2 separate regions of the Homo sapiens genome follow, and region 1 is linked to region 2. Evidence: fine-mapped expression QTL. Tissue or cell type: whole blood. Region 2 holds a variant in brackets; the other region holds the start of a gene. All regions are shown on one strand. Distances are from middle to middle.

Region 1 (14,586 bases), 24 kb before region 2:
CATTTAAACCTGTTTCTTGTGTTTTCTTTTTATCTTTTGTGGCTTGCTTTTACCTTGGGGGGGTAGGTTTCAGGAAAGATGAGGTTAATTTAAAATTGCGACCATATTTGTTTAAGTCACCTTTAGTTGATAGTCCAGCATTTCTGTGGAAGAGACCACTGTAGGTCAAAGTGTTTTATTTCATCTGATTTAATCTGACTTTTTATCTCATTCATTTCTTTTTCCTTGGGTAAGTATCATTCTCACTGATGTTTCCAAACTTAGGTAGCCTCTCAAAAGTTTTCCTTATACCAACCACTTCTCTTCCTTGTTCAAGCTGTTCTCCCAGTGGGAAAGTTTGTGCTAAGTGATACCATCCAGCATCTCAATCAAAATCCATCTGCAGACTTCCTTCTCTCTGGCACCTCTTCCTCATTATGCTCATCATACTCAGTTCACTTCTTATCTCTGCACATTCCTACATCACTAATAAGATGTGATCTGGCATCTGTTGGCTCATTGTGTTGTTGTCGTTTTGTTATTTTTTAATTAAGTTCATATGAATAACTTTATTGAGCACCTACTGTGTGTCAGTTTCTGTTAAAAGTATCCAAGAAATACAAACATGAATAAGACGATCTCTGTGCTCCAGATATTTCTATTTCAACCTTTTTACAGAAACTAAAATTTTTCAAAATCTTTTAACAACTTTATTAAGATAGAATTCCTATGCCATACAATTTACCCACTTAAAGTGTAGAGTTCAGTGGCTTTTATATATTCACAGAATTGTACGTCCATTATCACAATTTGAGAAAATTTTCATTAGACCCCAAAAGAACCATTGTACCGCTTAGCCATCACTTCTCAATCCCCTCCCATTCCCCTGCCCTAGGCAACCACTAATCTACTTTCTGTCTTTATAGATTTGCCTGTTCTGGGACATATAAATGGAATTTTGTATGAATGGAATCATACAATCTGCAGTTCTTTGTGACTGGTTTCTTTCATTTAACATAGTGTTTCCAAGGTTCATCCATGTTGTAACATATATCAGCACTGCCTTTCTTTCCTTCCTTCCTTCTTTTTTTTTTTTTTTTGACAGGATCTCACTCTGTGGCCCAGGTTCAAGTGATCCTCCCATCTCAACCTCCCAAGTAGCTGGGACTACAGGTGCCTACCACAACACCTGGCTAATTTTGTTGTTGTTGTTGTTAGAGATGAACTCTTGCTTTGGTGCTCAGGCTAGTTTCAATCTCCAGGCTTCAAGCGATCCTCCCACCTAGACCTCCCGAAGTGTTGGGATTACAGGTGCAAACCACTGTGCCTGGCCCTTTAAAAAAAAAAAAAAAAAGACTTTTTTTTTTCCAGAGAAGTTTTAGGATCACTCAAAAATTGAGAGTAAAGTACAGGGATTTCCCACACATACATAGCCTCTCCTGTTATCAAAATCCCCCAACAGTGTGGTACATCTGTTACAATTGAGCTTCCTTGTTTTATTTTTTAACCCTTCTTATGTTATTACACATGGCTATTTTTCATCTATCTTTATTAGCTATCTCCTTTGTTACCTTCCCCTCCCGCACTGATGTTTTAGCCCAGTGGCCCAACATAGCTGATAAGAAGCAGACTTTCATTCCAGGTTCATTTTCCCGATTTAGTGTTGAGGGTGCGGGTAGATGAAGTTTTGTTTTGTTTGTTTTGTTTTAGAGAAGTGTATTGCTTTAAAACAGGGAGAGATAGTCTGACGTACTGAAAGGAGGTGGGTCTTTAAAGTTAGCGAAAGGTAGGTAGGAGCCTTACTTTTGCCTTTGGCAAGTTTATTGACCACTATAAGCCTCAGCCTTATCTGTAAAATAAGTTGGATAATGCCCATCTGGAGGAGCTCTTGGGAAGATTGAAGCATGGAAAGCACCTCTCTGGAAGGTTCAAGGAAAGGGAACTAGAATTATGGGTGACAGAATTCCCTGGCTTTCCAATGCTTTACTGTAGGTCGAATGAGCACTCCTAGCAGGCTGGCCTCATGCCACTTCAGAGTCTCTAGCCTGCAGGCTGGGGGCTGGGTATGGACACGATACCTGGAAGGGAACACATATAACTTCCATCAGTGATCCTGGAAAGGCTCGACAAATCACCCATTCATTCATTCTGTGTGTATGTGTGTGTGTGTGAGAGAGAGAGAGAGAGACAGAGTCTCACTCTGTCACCCAGGCTGGAATGCAGTGGTGCAATCTCGGCTCACTGCAACCTCTATCTCCCAAGTTCAAGTGATTCTCCCATCTCAGCCCCCCGAGTAGCTGGGATTACAGGAGCCCGCCACCACTCCCGGCTAATTTTTGTATTTTTAGTAGAGACAAGGTTTCACCAAGTTGGCCAGGCTGGTCTCGAACTCCTGACCTCAGGTGATCCGCCCACCTTGGCTTCCCAAAGTGCTGGGATTACAGGCATGAACCACAGCACCTGGCCCATTCATTCATTTTTATTTGAACTTCTCTTCCAGGAAGCCCTCTGAGTTTAGGTTTAGCGACAGGACCCTGATTCAAGTCAACTCGTTTATTTGAAAGCTGCCTGGATAAAAATAAAATAAAATAAAAAATAAACTGGAGGATAACATAAAAGGATCCTTGCAGAGGATTCCTCCTTTTGTGGATCTCACTGAATCTCAGAGTTAGAAGACGCTCAGAGATCTCAACTCCCTCAAGGGTCAGACAAGGACAGGTTTTTCATTCTGCCCTGGATCCTCTCACAATAGCCTCGCGGGAGCTGGCCCTCAAAATGATGAAGGAATAAATGAAAGGAGGGATGGAGAAATTAATGATGAAGAAAAAATGAATGAGGTAGGGCTGCTTGTTTGCTGCTATTTTCTTCACAATGCTTTTAAGATTTCCTGGTCCATCTCCTCCTTCACCACTTCTCTCCCTCCCTCGATCTCTTCTCCAACTTGTCTCTTACAGAAGGGCGCCGCGTTCCCGCGCTCCTCCCCTTCCCCTCGCCCCGCCCCTCCCCAGCGAGGCCCCGCCTCGCTGCCCGAGCCCGGCGGGAATGAATGGCAGCGTAGCCGCCGCGCCGCTCGGGGTGCCGATTGGCTGACCGGCGCGCTGACGCGCCGGCGACCGCGGGTGCACGCAGGCGAACAGAGCCGGCGGGGGCGGAGCCGGGCTCCGGGGCGGGGCGCAGGAGCCCCGGGGCGGAGGAGCCGGGGAGGCGGGAGGCGGGAGGCGGGAGGTGTTGGGGCCGTTGAAGCGGCCTCCCTCCCGCCCCCAGCCGCCCGGTCTGGCCCCAGCCCTGTCCCGACCCCCGGCCTGGCCCACTCCGACCCTACCCGGCCGAAGGGTTCCGCTGGACACGCAGGCGGCCTCCGGAGCAGCCCAAGCCCATGAGGGCCGCGCGCCCGGCCGCCGGTGCTGACGAGACGGAGCTCCTGGCCCCCGAGGAGGAGCAGAGGATCAATGCGGTTCAAGAATCGATTCCAGCGGTGAGAGGGATGGCGTCCCGGTCCCGCTGCCCGTGTCAGAAGCGGGTTCCCAAATCCCGCCGTTAAGCGCACGGCTCCCGGCTCCTCACCTGGATTCATCCTGGGTGGATCCCGCACCTTGGCCAGGGATCAGTTCCCTGGGGATTCCCCACCCTGCTGTCCCTGGGCGATCCCCTTCCTCCAAGGATGGGAGCTCCTGCCTCACCCGGGTCTCCCCTCGCGATCTGCGGACCTCAGATGGATTCCCGGCCCCGGGACTCCAAGCCTGTCCTCCTTCCCGGGGATCCCTTTGCTCCTGGGGCTCACCCTCCCGACCCCCATACAGGCTGGGCTCTGGCTCTCTCTGGGAACCCGAACCCCAGCCCCGGGCACCGCCCCCGAGTCCTCCGACCTGGCTTTGGCCTCCATCCCTTTACCTCCAGGGTGGGGGTCTCCCGGGGCGCGCGGAACGGGGTGGCGCCCTGCGGAGAGATTTGTCGTAAAGCGGGGTGCTAGGCATTTTGGGTGCTTTGTGAACGGCCCTAGCAACAGGGAAACTGAGGCACGCTCCGCCAGCTTAGCCCTGCCTGGCCGTGTAGGGGCCTTGCTGGTTCTCCAGCTGAACGTCCCAGGGCGGTGCTATTTTTGGGCTCTGCGAAGGGGCATGTTAGCTTTCGGGTGGCGAGACCTGCTGTGGAGGCGCCGGTGTTAGGAAACGAGGAGGAGGAACCGTGGAGGCGCCACCGGAAGGCTGGCCGACTGCTCATTCACTGTAGAGCTGGTGGAAATGCCGGGCTGGGGGGCGCCGTGGCCTTACTCCCCTCTGGGGCTCCACCGTCTAACAATGGATGGAGGTTAGCCCATGACTCTGAGAGGAACTCCGGGCTTTTCTTTTCTGTTTAAGTGGGTGAAAGTTCACCTCTCCAGGGCATATGGTAACTGCATCCCTTTGTGTGAATTCCCGGACCTTCACCACCAGCATGTTTGCTGGGGGTGCAGTGACAGGGGAAATTTTAAGAAATGCATGAAATCTTCCAAGAAGGTTGTTGAGTTTTTAGACACTACCTTTTATTTCAGAATTTTAAAGTACACATTTTTTTTTTCTTTCCAATCTCCATGCCCTCACTGCCCTCTCACCCATCTCATTCCTCCCCCAGTCCCAAAGGGTAAAGGAGGCAACAAATGCACAGAAGAGTTGCCATGGTCTGGGCCACCAGGAAGGGGATCAGCTTGAAGACTTGGATTGACTTCTGAATATATTGCTTATCAGTCAGGGTGTTGAATGCTTGGCACTGTTCCCCCAGTGGAACTTCATACCGGTGTGTCTAAGGGCAAAATGGAACCGTAGTGTTCTGACTTTAGAACCTGATGTCAGAAATGAAGACCGGAGGGGCTTTTAGAGAGAATGTAACATGCACTCCAGTCATGATCAGTGAAGCCCTGTGCATGCGGTTTGATTTGGTTTTACTTCTCTACACGTCTGTGCTCTTCCTGTTTTCAGAGAACAGTGGCAATATTCTGTGAAATTGCCCCTTCCTTGTTTGATTAAGAGTTTGTCATTCTTACCTATACCTTTGGATCCTCTAAAAAGAAAAAAAACAAACAAACCCTGTTCAATTATTTGTTGCACAAACGTTAAAACTGTTAAAACAACAACAACAACAACTTCATTTAGGATGCTACCCTCTCAGCTTATTGAACTGACTTTTTAATTATTTTTGCTGGACACTGATCTCTCCATTCCTTATTAGCACAGTTGTAATGTGATTTTTGCGCTATTATTCACTTAAAAACTAAAAATACAGGTATTTTCTTTTGGTGTGGCATAGACTGTAATTTTCTTGGGGGCTTGTGTGTTTCTCAATGGATATTTAACAGTTTCTTTCTTGATGACATCTAGATCTACCCTGATTTTCTTTGAAGATTTGTGTGATCTCATAATTTCTTGGTTTTCTATCATAAGCTAGGTTGGAAACATAGTTCTAAGCATCAATTTTAACTTGGAAATAAAGCCTATAAACAAAAAGTAATGTAATGAGAATGTCCTGATTTTTGTGGTTCACACATTAAAATGCTGAGAGTAGTACTATTCTGCATCTTTTAATGCTGTGTTCATGATATATCTTTCTGAGCATTCCCAGGTAGGTAAATTGCAAAGGAACTGGAGGGAGAGACACACTGTCTTTGAAGGGAGACATGCTTCCTCCCTCCTGATAGATTTATTGGGACTGGATGGAGGAGCATGAGGAGGGTTTATGCAATGATGGCTTCTTAACAAACTTAGGATGTGAAAAATTTCACTGGAACACAGAGGCATATTTTATCTTCCTCATTTTATGTTTCACACTTGAGTATCCCCAAGATACCTACACACACATAGACAAACACAAAGTCATCCTCTCCCCTTCATAGCATCTCTGATTGATGGCAATAACTGCTAATATTTATTGAGTGCCATTTATCTATGCCAGGCACTGGCTGGGCACTTGTATATTACTCATCCTCAACTATAACTCTGGAAGACATAAATGTTATACCCATTTAATAGAAGAGTAAATAGGTTTAGAGAATGAAAGGGAACTTGCCCATAGTCACACAGCTAGGAAGGGGTAGACCCAAGAGTTCAACTTCATGTCTGTCTCTCAACCAGTCATGCTGCTAGCTCACCTCTTTCTCTCTCTTAACTCTCTGCCCACACCACATCTGTGTGTGGGCACACAGATCTTATAGGCATAAGATCCACAGAGCTCTACTGTATCTTCTTGTTGGTGTGTACTCATTTCAACAGTCTTGCAACCAAAAATCCAAGGAAAAAGAAGCCCTTTTCCTCAGCCCCAACCTCATGATCATGCAGCTAGCTTCAAAACTGGATATGTGGGAAAGCATTTTAATCTACAGTATTAGAAGTCTTACAGGGCTACCTATTGTCTTTTTTCCCATGTTCTTAAAGCACTAAATCATAGGCATGGGGTAGTCTCCTTATATATGCCATCTTCCTTTATTTAATAATTAAGTCAAGATTGGCACTATTGACAGTAGACACTTTTCCTGAACAAATATGCTCAGTCATAAAGGGGAGCTAATAGTAAGAGGGGTCCACTTATACGTTGCAACATAAATGATGTTGAAGGGGCCCTTGGAATATCCGTTGTCTTGGATTTTAAGTGTTTTTGTGTGTGTGTGAGATTCGGGGTTCTCTTGGTTCCAAGGCTGCCTGTTTCTCTTACTTACAGAACCTGCTGTGTCCACAGTAAAACTAATTGACTATGGGATATCTTTGTTAAGACAAAATAGTTCAGCAGTAGCTGGAATGTCTTTCTATTCATTCAACAATTATTAAGCTCTAGCAATAAGCTGGGCATTGTACTTCAGTTTGGTAATGGAAAGGTGAACAAGACAGCCTTCATGGAATTCACACTACAGTGGGAAAAGATGAAATAAAAAATAAGCTAAAACAAATCAAAGTCTTACCAATTGTGACATAGGGCTCTGGTTGGATGGGGAGGGTTGAAATGATACTTCAGTTAGGATAGTCTGGAAAACCTCTCTTGAGGAGGTGACATCTGAGCTGAGCTGAAAGGATGAGAAGAGAGCTGAGCATTCTGGAGAATATCCTAGACAGAAGTAAACAGCAAGTACACATGCCCAGAGGCAGACACAACCTTGATGTGTTTAAGGAGCAGAAAGGAGGTGGTATAGCCAGAGGATGGAGAGAGAGAAAGATGCCACCCTGAGACTGGAGGGGTAGTGAGGCCCAGACCACTCAGGGCTTGTGGGCCTCTGAACACTGTGTTACAGTGCTATCGTAAGCACTTTGGGAAGCCAGAGGCAGACTTTAAGCTGGGATTGGGGTGTGTGATGTGATCTGGGTTTTTTGTTGTTGTTTGTTTTTGAGACAGGGTCTTGTTCTGTCACCCAGACTGGAGTGCAGTGGTGCCATCACAACTCACTGTTGCAGCCTTGACCTCCGAGGCTCAAGCAGTCCTTCTACCTCAGTCAGAAGTAGCTGGGGCTACAGGCATACACTACCACACCTGGCTAATTTTTACATTTTTTTTTGTGTGTAGAGATGGGATCTCACTATACCGCCTAGGCTGGTCTTAAACTCTTGGGCTCAAGCAACCTCCCGCCTCAGCTCCCCAAAAGTGCTGGGATTACAGGTGTGAGCCACCATGCCCAGCCCCTCATCTGTTTCTAATGGAAAACTGTAGCTGCTATGTAAAGAAGAGAGTCTGTACTGGGTCAAGCAGGAAGACTAGTTAAGAGACTTTGTATTTGTACAGACCTGAGATGTTAGGTCTTTATTTAAGGTAGGAGACGCGGAGCTGGGATTACAGGTGCACACCACCACACCAGGCTAATTTTTGTATTTTTGTAGAGATGGAGTTTCTCTATGTTGGCCAGGCTGGTCTTGAACTCCTGACCTCAAGTGATGAGGTGGACTTATTTGAAATATATTTTGAAGGTAGTGTTGATGGTACTTGCACTCGGAGAATGAGGAACACTTGTGGGATTTGATCTACTGAGATCAGCCTCTGAGATCTGCTGGTGGGTTGCAGATCTACTCAGTGGGCACAGTGCTTTAGGTTGAATTTAAAGTGTGTTAGTGTGCTAAGGAGTGTTCCCAGGTCTCTGATCTGTTCTTTCCCTCCATGGTTTTGAAATTCTGTCATGGCATGGGAGAGGGGTATGGGGGAAGGAGGAGGTGATAAGAACGTTGGGCAAGGGGGAAGGCAGGAGAGTTTTGAAAGAGAAAGTGAAGGAATGAGTAAAAAAACTCTGCCTAACTAGTAGCTTTATTAAGTGCAGCTCCCACTCCCAGGACTGAATCACCTTCCTTCAAACCCTCTAGAGCTTGTTGGTTACTCAAGCATTGAGTAACCATTAGGGCCACTCCGCTTTAAATAGAGATGTCTTCCATAAATGGATGCTGTTTTCCATAACCAGCACTTGAACCTTTCCCATTCTTTTTTCGGGGAAGAGATGAAGGCCAGAGTGTGGGAGTTGATTTACATTTTACATCTGCTTTTCCATTTAGGTTTTAGGAGTGATTTCTTCAGGAGGCTGTGGAGGAGGCTTGATTGCACCCTGGCAGGTTAGAGAGAAATGGGAAAATTGTATTGTACTTTCCCAGCAGAACAATTATGCTGTCTATCCTACTGAGCCCCAGATTTAGAGAATTGCTTCCAGGATAGTTACCCTTATCTTTCCCTATTGCCCGTGTCTTACCCTGTGCATCAGGATAGAGTGCCTTAAGTCACCATGGGTGGGATATTTTTCTGTATAACTTTCTACTTTTATTTTTTAATGTGAATTATTCCAGGTGATCAGGGACTAAGCTGTCACAAACATGGCCATCCAGTTTATTTGTTTTTAGGAGAAAATGTGAAAGTCTATCCCTGTTGCTGGGTAATGGCTTGACTATTTTTAGATTGGGCTGCCAGAGATATAAATTGCTATTTTAGTCTGCAGCCTGGTGGTGGGTAGACAAATCCTACTTACTGCACCCTACACAGAGCACATTCAATTTCATCTAACTACAGCCATCTTGGGGCCTTGCTCTTTAGCCTTGAAAATTCCTAATAGGGTATGCTACTTATAGCTCTGTTGTTATGTCTCAGGACAATGATGTGGTATATCCTCCAATTCTTGGGACACTTTTAAAGCATTCTTCCCAAGAGTGTAATTATTTTCTTTTTTGCTAATAAGAGCTGTATAGCAACACTCTTGTCTCTTAGGAAATTAGTAAAATTATTTAAAATATTATCAGGGGAGAAAAGATGATGCTTAATAATAGTTAACTATATTTGAGAATAGCTTGGATAAATTTTGAAGCTACTAACTGTATATTTCTCTTTAACAGTTGGTTTTCAAACCATCTGGTAGATTATACTCAGTAAGTACATATTTTGTACACTAGTTAAATATCTTAACCCATCAGTGGGCCAAGTGAAATATCTTCACTGTCCCAAATTCATTCCCCAGTGGATTTTCCACCTGAACTATCTGTATTGTGTTAATAGTGGCTGCCACTTTATTTTTATTTATTTGATCTAACGATAACAGGCTCTTCCTAACTCAGGGAAAGAGTATTGGCTGGTCTTTTATTAATAAACTTGGCACTCTCTAAAATGGCTTGGTCATGCGTTTTAGCCAATTTTTGGCAACTTGGTTCTACCATTTGGTTCAGCCCTGTACCATTTTTTATTTTGTGTATGAATAAGGTAATGAGTAGTTAGAACTCATTAGTGGCACAAAATACCAACCCCCAACCCCCATTCACACTTCTTTAAACTAGCTTGAGCAAAAGGATTATTTATTGTGCAAAGCCTGTTGACGTCTTACAGACTCTTAAGCACAGGAGTGCAGTGGACCTCTGCAACCTGAATGCTGTTGAAATTTTTTTTTTTTTTTACGTCCGTCTGTTTCTGTGCATCTACCTCTTTCTTCTTTTATTCAGACAGCTGCTTTTTTCTCTCCTGAGAAAAAAAGGATTAATTAGACTAATCCAGAGTCCCTCATGAAACCTGTTGTGGGTATGGGTTGGGTTTTTGGTGGGGAGGGCATCCTCACTCAGCATACTGAAATGGAAGAATGCTATCCTCTCTTTAGGTTCTGTGGTATTCATGCTTTTCTCTGTACTACTGATGGTCACAAAGTTAGCCTAAAGGGAAGTGCGGAATATGGGCATATGTCTATATATGTAACAGATTTTGATATTTAGATACGTACACACATTTGTGTGTATATATGAATTTTATAGCCAAAAGAATCAGGTAGTAGTCATGTGTTTGGTTTTTGAAGCAGACTTTTTGATTTCAGGAAGAACAAAGGTGAAAACATACCTCCGGTTTTAAGTTGCCTAGAGGTAGCCAGGTGTCATTTATTTAAGCTGTCTGGTAATACAATATAGGGAAACTAGTGGGACAGGCCTGTTAATCATGGGATGTAGGGTTTAAAGATGTGCCTATATAAAGCTTTATAAATTTTAAGAGAGAAAATAGAAACTTTGTTTTTCAAATGTAGTGTATCCCTTTTCACTAAATGACAATAAAATTTAGAAAAATTCGTTTTTTTTTTCTAGTTGTACCGTGTGTGTGTGTGTGTGTGTGTGTGTGTGTGTGTGTGTGTGTGAATGGAGGAGGAGGGTTCCAGTTGAAGGGGTGGATATGGTTTCTCTTTGCTTTTGGTTGTAGAAGTTTGCTTTTGGTTATGGAAGGTTTTTCTTTTGAATAAACTGAAAGAAGGCTTAATCTAATAAACTAGGGTATTTGCTTAAGGATCATTGCTATTGGCTCAGTTTACTCCTCTTTAGTGGCTTTGGCTTTATTACCGCAACTGGGTATTTCCACCAGTCACTTCTTTGCGTAGAATAGACCACATACCCACTGGTGGGTTTCCTCATTGTTCTTCACACACTTTGAGTTTTTCTTACATGTGTTCTTTTTGTTTTTACAGGTTCATGAACCATCGAGCTCCAGCCAATGGCCGCTACAAGCCAACTTGCTATGAACATGCTGCTAACTGTTACACACACGCAGTGAGTACAAGTTTTCCACCATTGCCATCCTTTCCACGGGGCTTTGGTGGGAGGAAGGGGTAGTTATCTCTAGTAACCTCAGCACAATTAGTTGGATTTACCCATCTGTGACCTTATCTACCAGGAAATCAGTTCTGGGTCGTGTCACCAGAAACTATGTAAGCATGTAGAATGCTTTGTGTGTTCTAACCTACAGTCAGCTCTGTCCTGGATTCGCTTTCTCCAACAAGATATTCTTTAAAGGAATAATAATAGTATGTACCCTAGTTATAGAAAAACCAAAGACACCTATTTATGAAGACTGTCACCCCTAGAATGAAATGAATCGCCTTTTCAAGACAATCAACTGTGTTCATTTGGCAAAGAGAGTTCACAGTTTGTTGAAAAAGATGCTTTTTAAAATTAAGTGATCCTCTGAAATGGGGAGGGGAGCCATAGCCTCCCACTCCTACAGTGGCCATTGCTTCCCAGAGGAGATGTTATTCCATATTGGTGAAGAAAAAGCCGATGTGATCCCTAAATTTTTTGTTAATTTTTTTCTGCTTTGTAAAAGCAAAACATGCTTATTATAAGAAACTTTAAAAATACTGAAAAATATATAAGAAAAACAAAACTAACCAGAAATAAACTGTTAACACTTCGGTGCATTTCTTTGTGTGTGTGTTTGTGTGTATGTGTGTGTGTATATGTGTGTCTCTGTGTTGGGGGTGTTTGTGAATATGTATGTATTTTCAGTTTTCCTGTTAATGTGACATTAATGGCATTTCTTATGTCATTATAAATTTTTTACTTTACCTGTGGTTTCATTATTCCCTTGCATTTAGTGACATTGAGGGAAAAATAGTGGCTGGGATACAGTCTGAAAACAAGAAATAGAGAAAAGACCAGTTTGCTTCTTTAACAATGAGTGTTTGGAACAGGCTAGTTTAACTGTGGTAGTCACTGTTGGTACAATACAATGGTTCAGATATTGAAACACACAGCTTACCTTTAGGAATAATATTTACTCGGATGAACCTGAATAAACCTTAACTTGTCTCTTCTGAGTGTGTCACAGGTTAAGGAACACTTGTGTAAACTTAAGTAAAGGGAGACCTGACAAAACCCCCATATTAATTTTTTTAGAACAGAAAATATAATCTTATTAAACCGTATCTTGAATTTTTGGATTTCAGGGACCAGTAATATTTCTAACACAGACAAAACACCCCTATTGTCATCATTTCATTGAAGAGAAGATACTTTAACATGAAAAGTAGTAAGGACATGATCTCAAGATAAAGGGCATTCCTTTAAATGAAATACATTTTGTTTTATGAAAAACTTTATTGTACTTAAATGTACTTAAATCCTCTGAAATAGGAAGGCGAGCCATAGACTCTCACCCCTACAGTGGCCATTGCTTCCCGGAGGAGATGCAATTGTATTTAATGTTCTAATTTTGCTTGGGCCAACGAAAACTTCAGCATCTGAAAAACTCATGCCAGTCTCATCTAGGGGATTTAATAGTCTGTTGCAAGGTGACAAATGTAGGTTTGGGGAGAAAAAAGATAAGCAAATTGCTAACATTTGTATTCTTTGTCAAGTATGCTTACTCTAATATCTAATAAAGTAGTTTATTCTCCTGGGAGCTTCTGTCATTGTAAGATGTTTACTAGTCATAGTCATACACATATGACTAGACATTAAAGTTTGTGACCATGTGGACTATGAAATATGATGCAGAAAGCAAATCTCTCTAAAATTCTCAAGATTTTTTGAATAGGTGGGCCTTGGAAATGGTTTGCTCTTGCTTACTTAAAAGGCTCTGTTAAAAATGAAGTGACCCCAAAACTCTTACATTCTGCAGTAGCTCTCAAATTGGTGGAATGTACAGATCCAAACTGAAAATCAGGGTATATAACTTCAACAACTGACTTTTTGTATGTGTGTGTTGCTATGTACATTATAATACCTATTACTTGATTTGTTCAATTATCCTGTCCTGAAATATTGAGATTTCAATTGCAATAGGACAGATATTTTAAAATGAGGACCTCCCTGAAAAATCTGAGTATATGCTTGGCTGTTTTTTGAAATGGGGTCTCACTCTGCCTCCCAGGTTGGAGTTCAGTGGTACAATCATGGCTCACTGTAGCCTCAACCTTTCAGGCCCAAGCAGTCTTCCCACCTCAGCCTGCCAAATAGCTGGGACTACAGGTGTTTGCCACCATGCCTGGCGAATTTTTTAAATTTTTGTAGATACAGAGTCTTGCTGTGTTGCCCAGGCTGGTCTGGAACTCCAGGGCTCAAGCGATTCTCCTGCCTCAGCCTCCCAAAGTGCTGGGATTACAGTCATGAGCTACCACACCCTGCCTGCTTGGCATTTGAATATTTTAAGTAATTACTCTAAATCAGATTATAAAGTAGAATGAAACATGTCCTTATTTAATGAAATTAGGATAAAAAAAAAAAACCATCTGTTTTGCAACAGCTGAATGATGTTGCATCCTTGATGGCTTAATTGTATCCCCACTGGTTGGCACAATTCCTGGACCCTGAGTGGTATTACCTGCTTTCCAGTGTAGCAGCTAACTTCATCTGGCTCTCGTTATGATTATCCAGGAGAGACAAATACTTGCTCTAAGATTATTTTACTAAAATTGTTCCTGGTAAAGCTCTGTATTTTTAGTAAAAGACTCAATTCCATAAAAGCCAGAATATTCCATTCACCATTCTTTATCTTTCCCTCAGTTCCTCATTGTTCCGGCCATCGTGGGCAGTGCCCTCCTCCATCGGCTGTCTGATGACTGCTGGGAAAAGATAACAGCATGGATTTATGGAATGGGACTCTGTGCCCTCTTCATCGTTTCTACAGTATTTCACATTGTATCATGGAAAAAGAGCCACTTAAGGTACAGTGGATGACATGCTGTTTCAACAGATCCAAATAGTTGACTCAACGTGTTTGGTACCCTTCCAAGCTGGCATGCTTTAGTCAAGTAGGGCAAAGAGTAGACATTTTTCTGCCTTGTAGACTAGAATACTATCCCATTATTCAGGACTTGTTCTTTGGACTGGATGAAGTTTTAGGACTCCTCCCCAGCAGGCATCTAAGAAGGTAGGCCTTTGCTCAGTAACCCCAAACAAAACCTAACTGATTCCCCAGGACTTACCACTTAAAAACCTGAGAGCTATTTTCCAGTACTATCAAGCACACTAAGGATATGATGAGAGCAGCAGCTATGGGGTAGTGACAAAGCACACTGAGCTTGGAGTCAGCAGGCAGGCTTTGAGGCCCAGCCCTGCTCTTTAATTTTGGGTAAATCACTTGACCTTGTGGAGCCTCAGTATCTGTATCACTAAAATGAGAATAATAATACCTGAGTCACACAGTCAGTGTGATAGGTGAATGAGATAAGGTACTTGAAAATAACTTGAAAATTACAAAAGACCCTATGAGTGTGTGAGGTATGAAGGTATACTTATAGTTTGCGTTTACCATTTTGCAAAGTTTAGCTTTCAGAATTAAGTCTTGTGTATATTATTCAAACAGAGTTCACGTATTTTGCTATTAATAGTCAAGCACTTTCAAAACAATACTATAGCTCTTGGCCTGCCAATGAGAAGAACG
Region 2 (15,419 bases):
GTTTAGCTTGGCATGGTGGCATGTGCCTGTGGTCCCAGCTACATGGGAGGCTGAGGCAGGAGGATTGCTTGAGCCCAGGAGGTTGAGGCTGTGGTGAGCTGTGTTCATGCCCTACAGCCTGAGGAACAGAGCGAGACCCTGTCTCAAAAAAATAATAAAAATAATGAAGTGTGCCAGCAACTCGTAAGCTTGCACTAGGTACCGTGTACAGTTTGGGAAAGCTATAAATTCAGGTATGTTTCTGTCTTTATGGTACTTTCCTGAATCAGAACCAGAATAGGTTCAGAGAGGTATTTTTCAAATCCCTTTACTCTTACTTTTCCTTTCCCTTGCTTTTAAGTCGTAAGTCAAGCACTTTTTTTGTTTGTTTGTTCTGTTTTCTAAGGCAAGCACTTTTTTTTTTCTTTTACTTTGCTTGAAAATATCTTTTGGGGATTTTCGTGGGTAAAGTGTAACATTACCTGTAATAGGCAGTTGCATGTATATATTTGAATTCCCTTTCAAATTGAATTACTGTTGAGAAGTCTGTGTGTGTCTGTCTTTTTGAAATGAAAATATATTATTACGACTTCATGGTTCCATCCACCTGGTTACCAGCCCTTTAGCTTATATATTGCAGTATCTTAGGCTCTAGGCACTATATTAACTAAGGAGGTCCCAAGGTGTTTCGTTTGAACCCTTCTGAGCCTACATTGTTCAGAAGAACTGTACTTAGGATTTCACTCCTAATCTCATAGGCACATTGTAAGAACCTTTTTTTTTTTTTCTTTTTTTTGAGACAAAGTCTTGCTCTGTTGCCCAGCTGGAGTGCAGTAGAGCGATCTTGGCTCACTGCAACCTCCGCCTCCTGAGTTCAAGTGATTCTCCCACCTCAGCCTCCTAAGTAGCTGAGATTACAGATGCGGGCTGCAACCCTTGGCTAATTTTTTGTATTTTTAGTAGAGATGGGGTTTCACCAAGTTGGCTAGTCTGTTCTTGAACTCCTGAGCTCAGGTGATCCACCTGCCTCGGCCTCCCAAAGTGCTGAGATTATATGCGTAAGCCATCACGCCTGGCTGTAAGAACATAATTCTGTGATAGTTTTTTTCCTGGTCACAAAAACACCTATAAAAGGTTTAAAAGTTTCAAATCTGGTTCTGTTTTTTCAGGGGATGTCTTCATGAGAATATAACAAAATATATTTCTTTGAGATACGAGGTTTATGATGGCTTTAATAATTACCTAGCACCCAAAATACATATAGATGGTAAAAGCAACAGGGAATGGTAAGGAGGAGGAGTTAAAGGACAGAAATGAGAAAATCAGCCTTGAAGGCCATATAGTTAGAAGGCATTTCAGGACACCCCAAGCAATATAAGCAAGGTTTGTGCAGCTTAATAGAGTAGAATTTCAAGCAAATTCCCTCTGGGTATCATAAGAGCAGGTTTATCCAGTAATTTTACTAGCCTAAATTTGAAATTGACATTTCCATAAGTGGTACAATAGCAGGTGACTAATGTTTGTGATAATCAAGCAGGATGATCCCCCACACTGCCTTCATAGAACTTAGAGTCAAGCAGGCAAATGCAGTTCCTATTAAAGAAAAAGAGATCATGAAATTTGATAAAATATTTGATGGGGGAAAGTTCAGGCTGCTATGCGAACATGACAGAAGTACCAGAGGAAGTGATATTTCAGCTGATTTGGAAAAACATGTAGAAGCTGAGAGATGGTAGGGGTGAGGCAAGTGTTACAGGTAGAGAATACAGCATGAAGGAAGCCCAGAGAAGGGGGAAGCACCAGCATCTTTGGAGAAATGAAAATAGCTCATTGTTTGTAACATAAAATACATGTACCAGCTTGAGTTATGTACATATGCATGGTGGGGGCAGGTATGCAGGTAGCACAAGTCTTGTAATAAAGCTGGAGAGCTAGACAAGAGTCCAGATCACAAAGGACCTCAAAAGCCACTAACACAGTAACAGAATGAATGAAAATGCGAATCTTTGGTTCTGGCCAGAATCATGGGTCTCAGACTTACCCTTCTGCCATAAAGAACTGTAAAACTAGAAAAAGAATAAAGGCAACTGTTTTTTTGGCTCTGAACCCAAACAGTACAGGACTGTGATCCTTGAAGGAAGAGAAACCAAGAAAATGAGCTTTGAATTCACCCCAGTAGTTTCCCTGGAGACACTTTCCAAACAGCAACAAAAGGAGGTAAAGCCCAGAGAACAGCAGCCTGGGTGGAGGAAACAGAAATTACAGTTCAGGTTACTGACATGGCTGCAGTTTGTGGGGCAGGGTATGGAAGAGGAGGAAGCCGCTCAGGGAGGATGCTTCAGAAATCCATGAAGCAGTTTCCGTGAGTCGTTGTCCAGATATCAAGCTGAATGTTGTACGGGCCAAAACTCTGCAAGCTCCAGTTGCAAATAACTCTTAGAAGGCTGGAAGATAAATGGAAATTCCGGACAGTTCCCAGTGCTGAAAGACATTGAAGTTCCAACCAAGCAGAGTTCAGAGATGGTGCTGGACATCCCAGGCACTCAGCTGACCCTGCCAAGGCCACAGCTTAGGAGTAGAGCTACTCTATCCCTAGAGGGAGGGCTACTCTAGAACTGCCATAACAAGGCCCAGACAAACCTTGAAAGGATAAAATTGATCCTCCAGTAAATAAACCGCCTAACAGAACAAAACTCAACAATTTTTAAAGGAATACAACAGAATCTTTACTGTAACAACTTAGCATGTACCATAAGTAAATATTATCAGAAATAAATCAATAATAATGTAATAAAATAAATAATAAATATATAATAAATATTACCAGATGGGCAAGAAACTGGAAAGTGACACATACCTAAGGGAAAACAGATCAATAGACACAGATCAAAAGACGGGAGAGATACTGAGATTCACACACAGGGAGTTTAAAACAGATGAGGAATCTCAGAAAATACCTGGAGACTATGAAGAAGAATCCACATGGAGATTCTAGATCCGAAAACTGTGATGTCTTAAGAAAAAAAAATTATTGGAGGGATTTAATAACAGATTGGATATTGCAGAAGCAAAGTTCAGTGAACTTGAAGCCAGGTCTGTAGAAACTATACAAACTGAAGCATGAGAGAAAAGAGTGATTTAAAAATGAACAAAAGAAGAAAGAAATTGGGGCAGTTTTTTGTTTTGGGTTTTCTGTTTTACAGTTTTTCTTTTCTTTTTTTTTTTTTTTTTTGAAGAAATAATAGTTACAACTTTTCCAAATTTGATGAAAAATATCAACCTAGAGATCCACAAAGCACGAGGAGGCCTGAGCAGTATAAACACAAAGAAAACTACACTAAGACACATTAAAGTCAAATTACTAAAAAACAAAGGCAAAGACAAGACCTTAAAATCAGCCAGAGAGAGAAAAAAGAGCAAGGAGAGAAGATGACCACTGACATTTTATCAGAATTCATGGGAGCAGGAATACAATGTAATGGCACATTTAAAATGCTGAAAGGGTCCGGGTGCTGTGGCTCACGCATGTAATCCCAGCACGTTGGAGGCTGAGGCGGGTGGATCATGTGAAGTCAGGAGTTCAAGACCAGCCTGGCCAACATGGTGAAACCCTGTCTCTACTAAAAATACAAAAATTAGCTGAATGTGATGGCAGAACTCCTGTAATCCCAGCTACTCGAGAGGCTGAGGCTGAGGCAGGAAAATCGCCTGAACCCAAGAGGTGGAGGTTGTAGGAGGTTGTAGTGAGCTGAGGTCGGGCCACTGCACTCCAGCCTAGGCAACAACATGAGACTCCATCTCAAAAATAAATAAAATAAAATAAATAAATAAATAAAATGCGGAAAGGAAAAAACAAAAAAACCCTGTCAACTTCAAGTTGAAGTTAGCACAGTTTAGTAATATTAATGTCAAAAATTTAACCAGGGAGGCCAAGGCAGGCAGATCACTTGAGGTCAGGAGTTCGAGACCAGCCTAGCCGACATGGCAAAACCCGTCTCTACTAAAAATACAAAAATTAGCTGGGCGTGGTGGTGGGCACCTGTAGTCCCAGCTACTTGGGAGGCTGAGGCAGGAGAATCACTGGAACACGGGAGGCAGAGGTTACAGTGAGCCAAGATCGTGCCACTGCACTCCAGCCTGGGCAACGGAGCAAGATGCTGTCTCTAAATAAATAAATAAATAAACCAGGATTGCTAGAAATGATGAATTTGTATGTAAATACATGGCTGTTTTTCATTTCTTAATTTCTTCACAAGATAACATGGGGGTTTCTAACATGTAGAAGTAAAGTACATGGTAACAATGGATGGGGTGGAGAAATAGAAGCACATTGTTTTAAGGGTCTTAACCTTGTATAGGGGGTATAATAATAAAGGTACATTGTGATGAGCTAAGGATGCACACTGTAATCCGTAGAATAACCACCACTGGCCAGGCGCGGTGGCTCACGCCTGTAATCCCAGCACTTTGGGAGGCCGAGGTGGGTGGATCACGAGGTCAGGAGTTCGAGACCAGCCTGACCGACATGATGAAACCCCATCTCTACTAAAAATACAAAAATTAGCCAGGTGTGGTGGCACACGCCTGTAATCCCATCTACTTGGGAGGCTGAGGCAGGAGAATCCACTTGAACCTGGGAGGCGGAGTTTGCAGTGAGCTGAGATCATGCACTGCACTCCAGCCTGGGCAACAGAACAAGACTCCATCTCAGAAAAAAAAAAGAATAACCACCACCACCACCAACAACAACAAAAGCAAAATAAATGTTATAGTTAAGTAGTCAAGAGAAAAGATAAAATGGAATCCCAAAGTTATTCAATTTAGTCTAAAGCAGGTGGGAAAATTGGAAAACGGAAACAAAGGATGGATGAAACCAAATAGAAAACAGAGAGCAAGACGGGAGGCTTCAATACAACCATATCAGTAATTAGGTACCTCATATATAATAACAATTACATCACAATGGACTGAACACTCCAACTAAAAGGCAGAGATTGTCAGACTGGATAAAAAAGTTTTCTCATCTGTATAATGGAGATAATAGTACCTAATTTAGGGTCGTTGTGAAGATTAAATGAATAAATATATGAAGTGCTTCAAACAGTGCCTGGCACATAGTTACAATAATGATAATGATAATGAAAAAAAAATTCTGTTTTGATACAGAATTAACTATGTTCTAGGTCTTTGAAAGTTGAGGTAAATGTGGTATCTTGAGGATACTAGTTAACAGAATGCATGTCAAAACTAACCTGCGTACTTGGTTTGGTGTCTTGCTTGTTTTGGCAGAAAGGAAAAAAAAGGATATTTTGTAACAGTGACTGGCCATGTGATTTTGTTCAGGCCACTTCACTGCTCTGGCCTTAGTCTCCTCACCTCTGCAATAAGGGGGTTGTGTTAGATGAGTGACTCTTACTATTTGGGAGTCCCTGTGCCCCTTTGCGAATCTGATGAGAGCCTTACCCCTATCCTAGAAGAGGGCTCCTAATACACACACAAATACTTTTGTATAATGTGTATTCATTGCTGTATAACCTTGAGGAATTAATAACGTGTGGTATTTTGTCTTTGTTTTTACTTTTTAAATAAAAATAAATCTAGCTGAAGTCCTTTCTTACCAAGGTTAGGAAGAAATCCAATGTCAGTCCATTTGGATTGGCTCCTTCCCCATCTTTTGATCCCACACAAAACATGGGGGCTTCTGTGAACTTTGAAAAAGGACTGAAGCTCACAGCTGGCCCTAGATCCTCACACCTGGTCCTTAGCTCATGATGGTCTATTGTTGCCTTGCTTTTAGCCGAGGGCCTTGGGGCCCATTCTAATCAGGTGCCTGAGTTAGAGCTTCCCTTTACTCTTGCGGGGCACACAAGGCTGCTGCCCAGTGCCCAGGCCTCTAGGACACCCACACACCTATCCCCTTCCAAGGCCCTGCCGTGATCTGCCTTAGGTTTCCATTCACTCTGCAGAACCTGTCTCCTTTCTATTCCTAGTCCTCAGAAATCCAGGGGACTAACTTGTTTCTTCATCAGCTTCTAAGCATTGCCTCTATTCTCTCTCCTCATTCATACAAGCCATTTTAATCTTGTAGATGGGCCTTGGTCTTTGAAAACCAAGAACAGCCTAAAAAATTCTCCCTTCTGCCCTAAGACACACAAGAATATTAACTTATTGCTAAGCTAAGCAATGGCCAGGCTCGAATACAAAAAGGCCTGGAGACATCTAGAAGGCTAGGAAATATCTTGTACTATGTGATCTGTGATTTCAGAGGTCACTTCTAGTTACGGTTTTCCTGTGTCAGCCTTAAGGAATCTATAAGCTCACATAAGCAGGGGAAGTCTCAAAGCAGCAATCAGTGTAGAACAGTGTTTGAGAAGGACAAAGGGAAGTAAATACCCTGCCTGAGATGTAAATTATAAATAGAGTGGCTTGGGCCTGCCTTAGTAGGGAAGGAAGCATTTAAAGGGGAAGATGAGAACAGAGGATTGCACTTTATTAAAATGAACTCCCATGTCTGGCTATGATTGCAGTTTGCTTAAATATGCTGTAAATGAGCAGAATGTTCTGCTTTTTCATTTGGGACCTGTAATGTGATTGCTTGCTCAACTCAAGAGTGTCAGTCCAAAGGGCAATCCAGGTCGATGTATAAGAGACTTTTTTTATGTTTGGTTCATGTTTACAGATCAGGATTGTGTTCACACAGCTTCTTCATTGTCTAGAAAATCAAGAGCCTTAGAGAGAATTACAGTTATCTGTAGCTTGCCATGCAGAGTAACATCAAACCCTTTTTATTTTTTTTTCTCTGTTGACAGAACAACACCGATGGACTTCAGGAACTTGCCTGTGGGGGCTTAATTTATTGCTTGGGAGTTGTGTTCTTCAAGAGTGATGGCATCATTCCATTTGCCCACGCCATCTGGCACCTGTTTGTGGCCACGGCAGCTGCAGTGCATTACTACGCCATTTGGAAATACCTTTACCGAAGTCCTACGGACTTTATGCGGCATTTATGACCAATCTGTACTAATTCTCCAAACCAGTATTATTTCAATTATGGCACTTGGGAGTGGGGTGAGAGCTAAACATTGCACAGGGAAAGAAAAAAAATAACTGCACTGACTTTATATCTTTTGAATATAATTACTGTGAAAGTATAAAGGCTGTGTTCTGGAATTTTCTGCCTCACAGCAAATAAATAAGGTAGTGAATTAATTATTCATTCCATTCCACTATCATGAAGGACTCTGAATAGACTTGGCCAACTGATGTTTACAAACCAGACTTTTATATTTTAATTTTACAGATTTTACTACATGATTTTTCTAAATTACTATGTCAGGTTGTAAAAGTCAGTGCAATAACAAACCTTCCTTTTTAAGAAGAAAATTGTTTCTATTACTTTCCCATTCACTAGGTAAAGAATCATGGACAGAACTTACACTACTTTTT[A/G]CCATGTTTCATCTTGGCATAACATGGTTCTTTTTTAAATAGAAACTTTAGTTTTTTGTAAATTTTTAAAAAAATATTTCATTGATATGCATCTCTGCAGGTCCTCATTCATGTTGTAAATTTTTGCAGCAAGCAGTCAACATTCCACAAACGAACAAACATTATACCTCTTCTGATAGTTTTATTAAGCATGGAGAAATTGCCAATTTTTAAAAACTGCAGTTTTCCAAACTTTTCTGCCAACCTCTTACTCTGAATTCAGTGCTGCTTTGGGACATATACTTGACCTAGCTTGGTTTACCAGTGATGGAAAAGTATTTTGATATCATTAACTTTTTCAAAAGATCCAACTTTTTCTCTATGCCTTTGCCACATTCTCTTCAGGGTCTCTTTCCACAGTGGATAAATGTTTTTTCTGTATTATGACAGTATTGTTGTGATGGCCATCTGCTGGAAACTCCTGAAGAGCATTATGTATTACAGTGAGCAGTTGTATTGCCTGTTTGGTGCCCAATGGTTAAGTCATTGTCACTTAGCTTTATATTGTCAGTTTGATATTTATTTTAAATTGTGGAACTAGATGCATAAATTCACATTTCTGCCTTTCCTTTGCATCTTCTCATATATTGTGTTTTTTTTTTTTTTTCCTAGAAAAAATATTTAAAGCATTGTTTGACAGGTAGAAACTCATGTATCTGTAGTCCATGAGTTATATCCTGGCTCAGTGGAGTGATATTTATGTATTATTTTTACTTTTCTCTCAGTGTCTTATATTAAGATTAACATGTTGTTAATAGTTGCTTTGTTGATTAATCTCTCTTGTTGGTGTTTTAATAAATGAAATAGGCTTGCCTTTAGATCGGGTGCTGATATTGCCTGTTTCCTAGTAATGGGCTGATCAAATGATCAGTGGAATTCTTGGTTTGATGATAACCTTATTAATTGAAATTTTTTACTGATGTGGCTTTAAAAGAGGTTTATTTTGTATATGTTTAGAACTCTCTGATTTTGATGAATTATATGGGAATGAGAAACAGAAGAAGTGGTATTTGCTGGCGAGTTAAATAGGCAAGGTACCCAGTGATAACACCAACCAAACCACTCCTATCTGCATGATTCTGAACATCTGGATGCCTGTTGTTTTACTGTGTATATTTTATTTTTAATATATTAACTTTGTGGATTCATTTAAGGTCTACTCAAAAGTAACACTGTCAAAACCACTAATATGTATGTAAAAATTGTGCTGTATACTACAATAAAGTTGTTACTTGGATTTGTTCCACTGTCTCTAAATTAGATGACTGTGAAGAAAAATGAATACACCCTGTCACTTAGAACTTTCTAGTCTACTTTTTAATAATTGAAATGCCAGAGTCAGCTCAAACATTAATCAACAGACATTTTCAGTTTAAAATACACTAGTCAGGACCTAATGATTTCAAGTTTTTTAGATGATGCATCCTTACCAAGGTAAGCCTTTTGGTTTAGCATATTTAATATTCTATAGGACTGAGGTGACAGTCTTTTATGTTACCAACCAGACAAGTAGCAGATTATAAATCTTAACAACTCTCCTAGTGTTAGATGCCATTCTACCTCTTCTGTAGTGTGGGAAACCAGGGCCAGAGAAGTTCAACTGCTTCATCCTAAATCAGGGAGCTGGAACAGCAACCAGCTCTATCTGATTCCGAAGCCTCCCATTGACTATACCACTGCATTTCTAGAGTCAGCAGAAACAAATAAAAAAACTTGAACTAAAAATTCATCAGGCATGGACACAGAAAAGAAAACACTATTCACATGGTTTAGAACCTCAATAATCCCTCAGATAACTCTCTGTCAAATCTAATTTTGAAGATTGAGTGTCTTGAAGCGTTATGATTCCCAAGAGTTCTGTCCTTTAGGTCACCAGTGTGACCTCATCCATTTCTAGAGTGTCCCCACTATTGTGCTGTCAGCTTCTTGGTCAGTATCTTCAGCCTTAAACTATTTTCTAAGGACTAGACCTCTCTCTAGTCAACTGCCTAAATGCTCCCAGACATATTGACTCAAACCGTCCCAAACTGATTTCATTATCTTTCCTCATCCTACCACCAAACCTATTTTCTGAAATTTCCTAACTTAGTTAATGGCATGGCCACAGCCATCTGTTCATTCATGCATCCTTGATTTCTTGCACCCCCCAGATGCAACAGGTCAGCCAGAACTGTCACCCCTGCCTTTCTCACAACTCCCTGGTCTGGTTCCTCACCTCTCTTCACACTGCAGGGTCCTAAAAAGACCTACTTAGCACTCATCAGACTACAGCAGCCACCTCCTCATTTGTATCCCTGCCACTGCTTACACCCCTCAAATGAGCTCATCCTCCACACTGTACCAGCATTATCTTCCCAAAATAAAATCTGAGCATGTGTCTCGATGCTCCAAAACTTCCACTGACTATTATCCTATAAGATTCACGCCAGATGCTTTAGCATGGACTCTTCACATGCTGACTCCGCCTGATCGGCCCTCTCCCCAGCTGAACCCCACTTGACATCAGCCCTGCTAGTGATTTTCACAGCCTCCCCCACAACACACATGCCCTCATGGTGCTTTTGCAGCTGTGTTTTTGTACCTGCTGTTCCTTGGCCTGGAATGCCCTTACTCCAGCCCCTTTCCTACCTGGCAAATAGTTGCTTATTCCAAGCCTTCATCAGGTGCCACCCATCTCCCTTGTGCCATTGACCAAGTTCCCCCTGGCATGAGTAGTAGTGCCCTCCTTTGACCCCATGGCACAGATATTCCTTCATGGCCCCTGTCATGGTGCATTGTGATTGTGTTTACTGTCTTTACCTCTGGTCTTGGGACTGACCTCCTTCAGGCAGGGACAGAGTCTCATCCACTTCTGTTCCTAGCTTCTAGCATAGCACTGGCTTATGACAAGAGTGAAGAAGTTTTGTTGAATGAAAGGGGCAGGGTCGGGGGAAGGTTGGAGAATGTTGCTGTGGAAGGGAAAGACTGAGAATAAAGCATTTTTTAGGACAGACTTTGGTTTTAGCAGGTTTATCCTGTCCATCACAAGCACTCTTACTAGCTGGAAACTGACTTTTAGCTTCTTAGGCCTTAGAGGCTTTTTTGACCACAAGGGTCAGCTAGAACATTCGTGGCAACCACAGGAAAGTTGATGAGAAAATAGAGTGTAAATATTAGAAAATATGTCCTAAAGAAGAAAATGTCCAGCATTTTTATTGGTGCTTTCCTAGAAATAACAATTTACAAAATTATTTTGAGAGAAAAAAGTATTTGGCCTAACGTATTTCCCTCTGGTCCTCTTTTCTGAATATAGTAATAAAATAAAACAATTGTGCAATCATTGGGTCTTAGTGCAGATTATACTCCAGAAGCAACAACTTAAATTTTTAAAAATATTTTGAATATTTTTACTTTAAAAATCATACAGCTATATAAAATCCTTTGGAAAATAGAGAAAGCTAAAAATTATCCAGCATTCATTTATCATAATATATTTTAATATACTTGCAATTTTTTATTTCCCTATTTTTATTATACAGCTGTAAATATGCCACATATGTAATTTTATATACTTTTTCCTACTTATTATAAGCATTTAAAAATACTATTATATTGGCCGGGCGCAGTGGCTCACGCCTGTAATCCCAACACTTTGGGAGGCCAAGGCGGGCGGATCACGAGGTCAGGAGTTCAAGACAAGCCTGACCAACATGGTGAAACCCCGTCTCTACTAAAAATACAAAAAAAAATTAGCTGGACTTGGCGGTGCATGCCTGTAATCCCAGCTACTCAGGAGGCTGAAGCAGGAGAATTGCTTGAACCTGGGAGGTGGAGGTTGCTGTGAGCCAAGATCACACCACTGCACTCCAGCCTGGGCAATGGAGCAAGACTCCATCTCAAAAAAAAAAAAAACAAAAAACTATTATTACTATTATATCATTTCATAGCAAGAATTTTCAATGATTTCATCATCTTTCAGAACTGGATATGCAGCCTATTTTGCTTAATCATTTGCCTAATTTTGGATATTTAGATTGCTTTAGATTTTTTAATATAAACAATGCTGCAGTGAACATACAGCTTCGTCCATATTTATGACTGGGTTTTAAAGGTAATAATAATAAACAACTGACTGCTTCTTATGTATCAGGTACTCTGCTAGTTTACATGGATTATCTCATTTTATGTTTACAAAAAACTTATAGATAAATCATTTTCTTATTCCCATTTTACAGATGAGGAAACAAATACAGATGAATAAGTTTCCTTGCCCAAGGTAAGTGGCAGAACCCGAGTGAACCCAGGAACCCTAGAGGCTTTTTTCATTTTCAAGAGAGCCATTCCTGGGGCAAAGGTTTATTGATGGGTTTACCCAAAGGAAGACCTTTTAAAAATAGAGCTCATTTCCAAATCTCTACATTTATACTTGGTGTCTTCAGTTTATGTCTACTCTTCTCACGTGCCAGTGAGATGGAGAGTGGAATAGGAAAATCTCCAAAGGAAACTGACCTCGAAGAAGCTGGTTCACCTCCCTCCTTGTGCAGCAAAATAAAAGTTTCTCAAGGGGCCCCGAGGAATGTTTTTAGTTTAACAAGGTTAGAATTACTGCATTTATGTCTTTCTACTGCTTTTGCTATTTTAAATAGACAGTGCCAATATGTTCTTACATTCTGTGCCATTCCCACCTACATCCCTGCAATGGATTGGTGGTGTTATTTTTCCAAGAAACAGTGCCACTGTGCACTCTCGCCACTCTGCAAGGGGAGTTAAGCTATTCTCATCAGGGGCCTGTTCAACACAACAGAACGCTTTCTCATTCTGCCACACAGCTCATTATCACTCAGACTTTCACTGCAGTCAGACTTGTGAAGTCAAAATAGACTAGCAAGGCTTAAGGGGGGCTTGGGAAAGTAGGCTTTGGAGGCTTGCCCTATCTCCTGGGAGAGGTCACAGGTCCTTTGCTGTTCTGTGCCAGGCCACACTTAACACACCCGATCTACTGTGTCAGTCACTGAAAAGGTCAGGAAAACTTTTTGATCATTAGGATTTGGTTCTCTTGAAGTCTCTTAAAGTGTTTTTTGAATCCCATCTATGAGCTGCGTGTTGAGTCAGGGTGGAAGCAGACAGCCTGTGACAAATTGGCTGGGTGAGCTTCGGTAAGTTTGGTATTACTTTTTGAGCTTCAGTTCCTGTCTGCAAAAGGGGTATATCACTTCTCTTGCAGTGCGGTCATAAGGATTAAATAATATGTTGAAAGTGTCAAGTTTATACAGTCTGACATATGATTGACACTGGGTAAATAATCCTAGTGCTTCTTTCCCATATGGCTGAGCTTTTAAAATTATGATTACAGCCCACCTGGGGATATTTTTCATGCACAAACAACCTGAAGAACAGTTCAGTACCACTCTTAAAATTGTTCTGTGCATTTTCTAGCTCTTATAAATGGTTCTGGATCAAATGATGGCCGAGGCTAAACTGAGGCATGTGGTTACCCCAGCCTTTCTAATAATTTTGTGTCATTTTAAACAATGTTCTTTAAACATTCAAGTTTTTTTTGTTTGTTTGTGTTTTGTTTTTGTTTTTGTTTTTGTTTTGCGGAGTCTTGCCCTGTCACCCAGGCTGGAGTGCAGTGGTGCAATCTCGGCTCACTGCCACCTCTGCCTCCCAGGTTCAAGCGATTCTCTTGCCTCAGTCTCCTGAGTAGCTGGGACTACAGGTGTGTGCTACCATGCCTGGCTAATTTTTGTATTTTTAGTAGAAACTGGGTTTCACTATGTTGTCCAGGCTGGTCTTGAGCTCCTGACCTCAGGTGATCTGCCAGTCTCTGGCTCCCAAAGTGCTGAGATTACAGGCGTGAGCCACCATGCCTGGCCAAATATTCAACATTTCTTTAGACAAGAACATGAGTATTCATAGAGAAAGGGTAGAAAAGGAGGAGGCTGGGGCAGTTCTTTATGTCCAGATAGGAGCTGCATGCTTTGCTTAGCAAAACAAAAGGCCTTCAATACATTGAGCCCACACTCTGTCAATTTGGACAGCAATTTGGTCACCATCTGTGCACTCTCGCCAACCTGAGCATGCCTCCTGGGGGACTCACACCAACGGGCTCCTAGTGGCTTATTAAAGAATTCCTTCCAACTACAGTCGTTTAATGCCTTCTCCACCTTGTTTCTTTCCCAGTGATGTTGTAGGGTCCTTTATTCACACATTCATTCAACAGATGTTTATTGGGTGTTGCCTATGTGCCAGGGACCAGTCTAGGGACTGAGGATGTTATAACAGAAAAAAAAAATAGGAACAAAAAGGCCAAATTCCTGCTTGTTGCTCAGTCTAGATGATTCTCTGCCCCCCAACTTCCTTAATCTGGATTTGACGTTTTGGGGAGCTTTTGTCAATCTGTTTGTTGGCATCACACAGATAGATGACTGTGGCCAGTGAATGTGACAGTGTGCATGACCAAGTAGAAAGTGATGCTGATTTACCTGTCTTTTCAACAAGGGTCCCGTACTTTGTGTTATTCATTTGTGCATCTGCTAGGGTGAGGTCGAATTGCCTGTTTGAAAGATGGCTCTTACTTATGAGAGCACCAAAGCAGCTCATTATTTAAAGAAACTTGTGAACTCTGCCCTCAAATGAATAACCCTCATGTGTGAATGAATCACCCTTTGCTTTAGCTGAACATTTAAGCATGCCGGGTTCATTCGAAGCAGGGCTTACCTATCCTCCCAGGCAAAGGATGATGAATGGGCAACACCTGTGTGGGCTGAGATATTTTTTTCCTTCCTTGTTTACTGTGTTTGGGATGCCTGAGGTCCATCCATCATTCCCCCAGTCCTGCCATGTGTCATACTTGTATTAGAGGCTGGGGACACAGTGTCCAATAAGGTAAGTCTCTGCCCTCAGGGGAGAAGGATGTGGAGACAAATGAACAATTATAACACAACATAATCTCCACCTGTGTATTGGATGCTATTATTGGAGGAGGGAGTGATTAGCCCTGTCCAGGGCAGTCAGAAACCCTCTGTACAGAAGCAGTAGTATGGCTGACACTCAAAGGGTGAATGAGGAATTGCCAGGGAGTCAAGTGAGGGGGCAGTGGGTAGAGACAGGGTCAAAGAAAGACATATTCCAGGGAGAGGAAAGAGCAGGCTTCAGGAAAGGGTGAGGTGTGTGGAAGGGGACATAATAATAATAGCTAATATTGACTGATTCCCTACTAAGGGCCCAGTTCATTCTTTATGTTTTACATACCTATTGACTCATCTATTATTTTGAGGAGTGAGAAAGACAATCTTGTATACATATGAATTCTTCTGCAGCAGACTAAATCTTAGATGGCGTATTGTTCAGTTCTTGCACTGCTATAAAGAAATACCTGAGACTGGGTAATTTATAAGGAAAAGAGGTTTAATTGGCTCACCATTCTGCAGGCTGTACAGGAAGCCTAAGAGCTTCTGCTTCTGGGGAGCCCTCAGGAAACTTACAATCATGGGGGAAGGTGAAGGGTGAGCCAGCACTTCACATGGCTGGAGAGGGAGGAAGAGGCGGGGGAAGGTACTACACACTTTTAAACAACCAGGTCTCACAATAACTCACTCACTATCACAAGAACAGCACTGAGGGGATGGTGCTAACCCATTCATGAGAAATCTGTCCCCATGATCCAATCACCTTCCACCAGGCCCCACCTCCAACACTGAGGACTACAATTCCACATGAGATTTGGTGGGCACACAGATCCAAACCATATCAGATGGATTTCTTTGTCTTAATATTTGGAACTTCTTTTCCTTTTTTGCCCCCTTGCAAACATGTACCAACATAGACTTCTTACGGAAGGCGAATATTTTGTCATTCACCTGAGCTAATTTCTGTGATACTGTATTAAATGGAAAGAAAGCATGACGAAGTATATTATGAATTGGTTGGACTACTGGGGATTTCTTTACTACAGGGGATTTCTTTGCTTGTTT

What was found.
Region 1: MMD starts here. The variant in region 2 is fine-mapped to the expression of MMD in whole blood (TOPMed, PIP above 0.99).

The regions. Positions count from the first base shown.
Region 1 is chr17:55,410,538-55,425,123 of GRCh38, reverse strand. MMD (monocyte to macrophage differentiation associated) reads left to right here and starts at 3,289. Exons shown (of 7, transcript NM_012329.3): 1 at 3,289-3,454; 2 at 10,892-10,973; 3 at 13,707-13,867. The coding sequence starts at 3,429. RefSeq lists a silencer at 2,889-3,348.
Region 2 is chr17:55,385,904-55,401,322 of GRCh38, reverse strand. It overlaps MMD (monocyte to macrophage differentiation associated), which reads left to right. Exons shown (of 7, transcript NM_012329.3): 7 at 6,789-8,701. The coding sequence ends at 6,989. Among named protein-coding and RNA genes, the nearest start is that of MMD, 28 kb to the left of the region's middle. The variant A/G (reference allele first, on the strand shown) is at 7,426.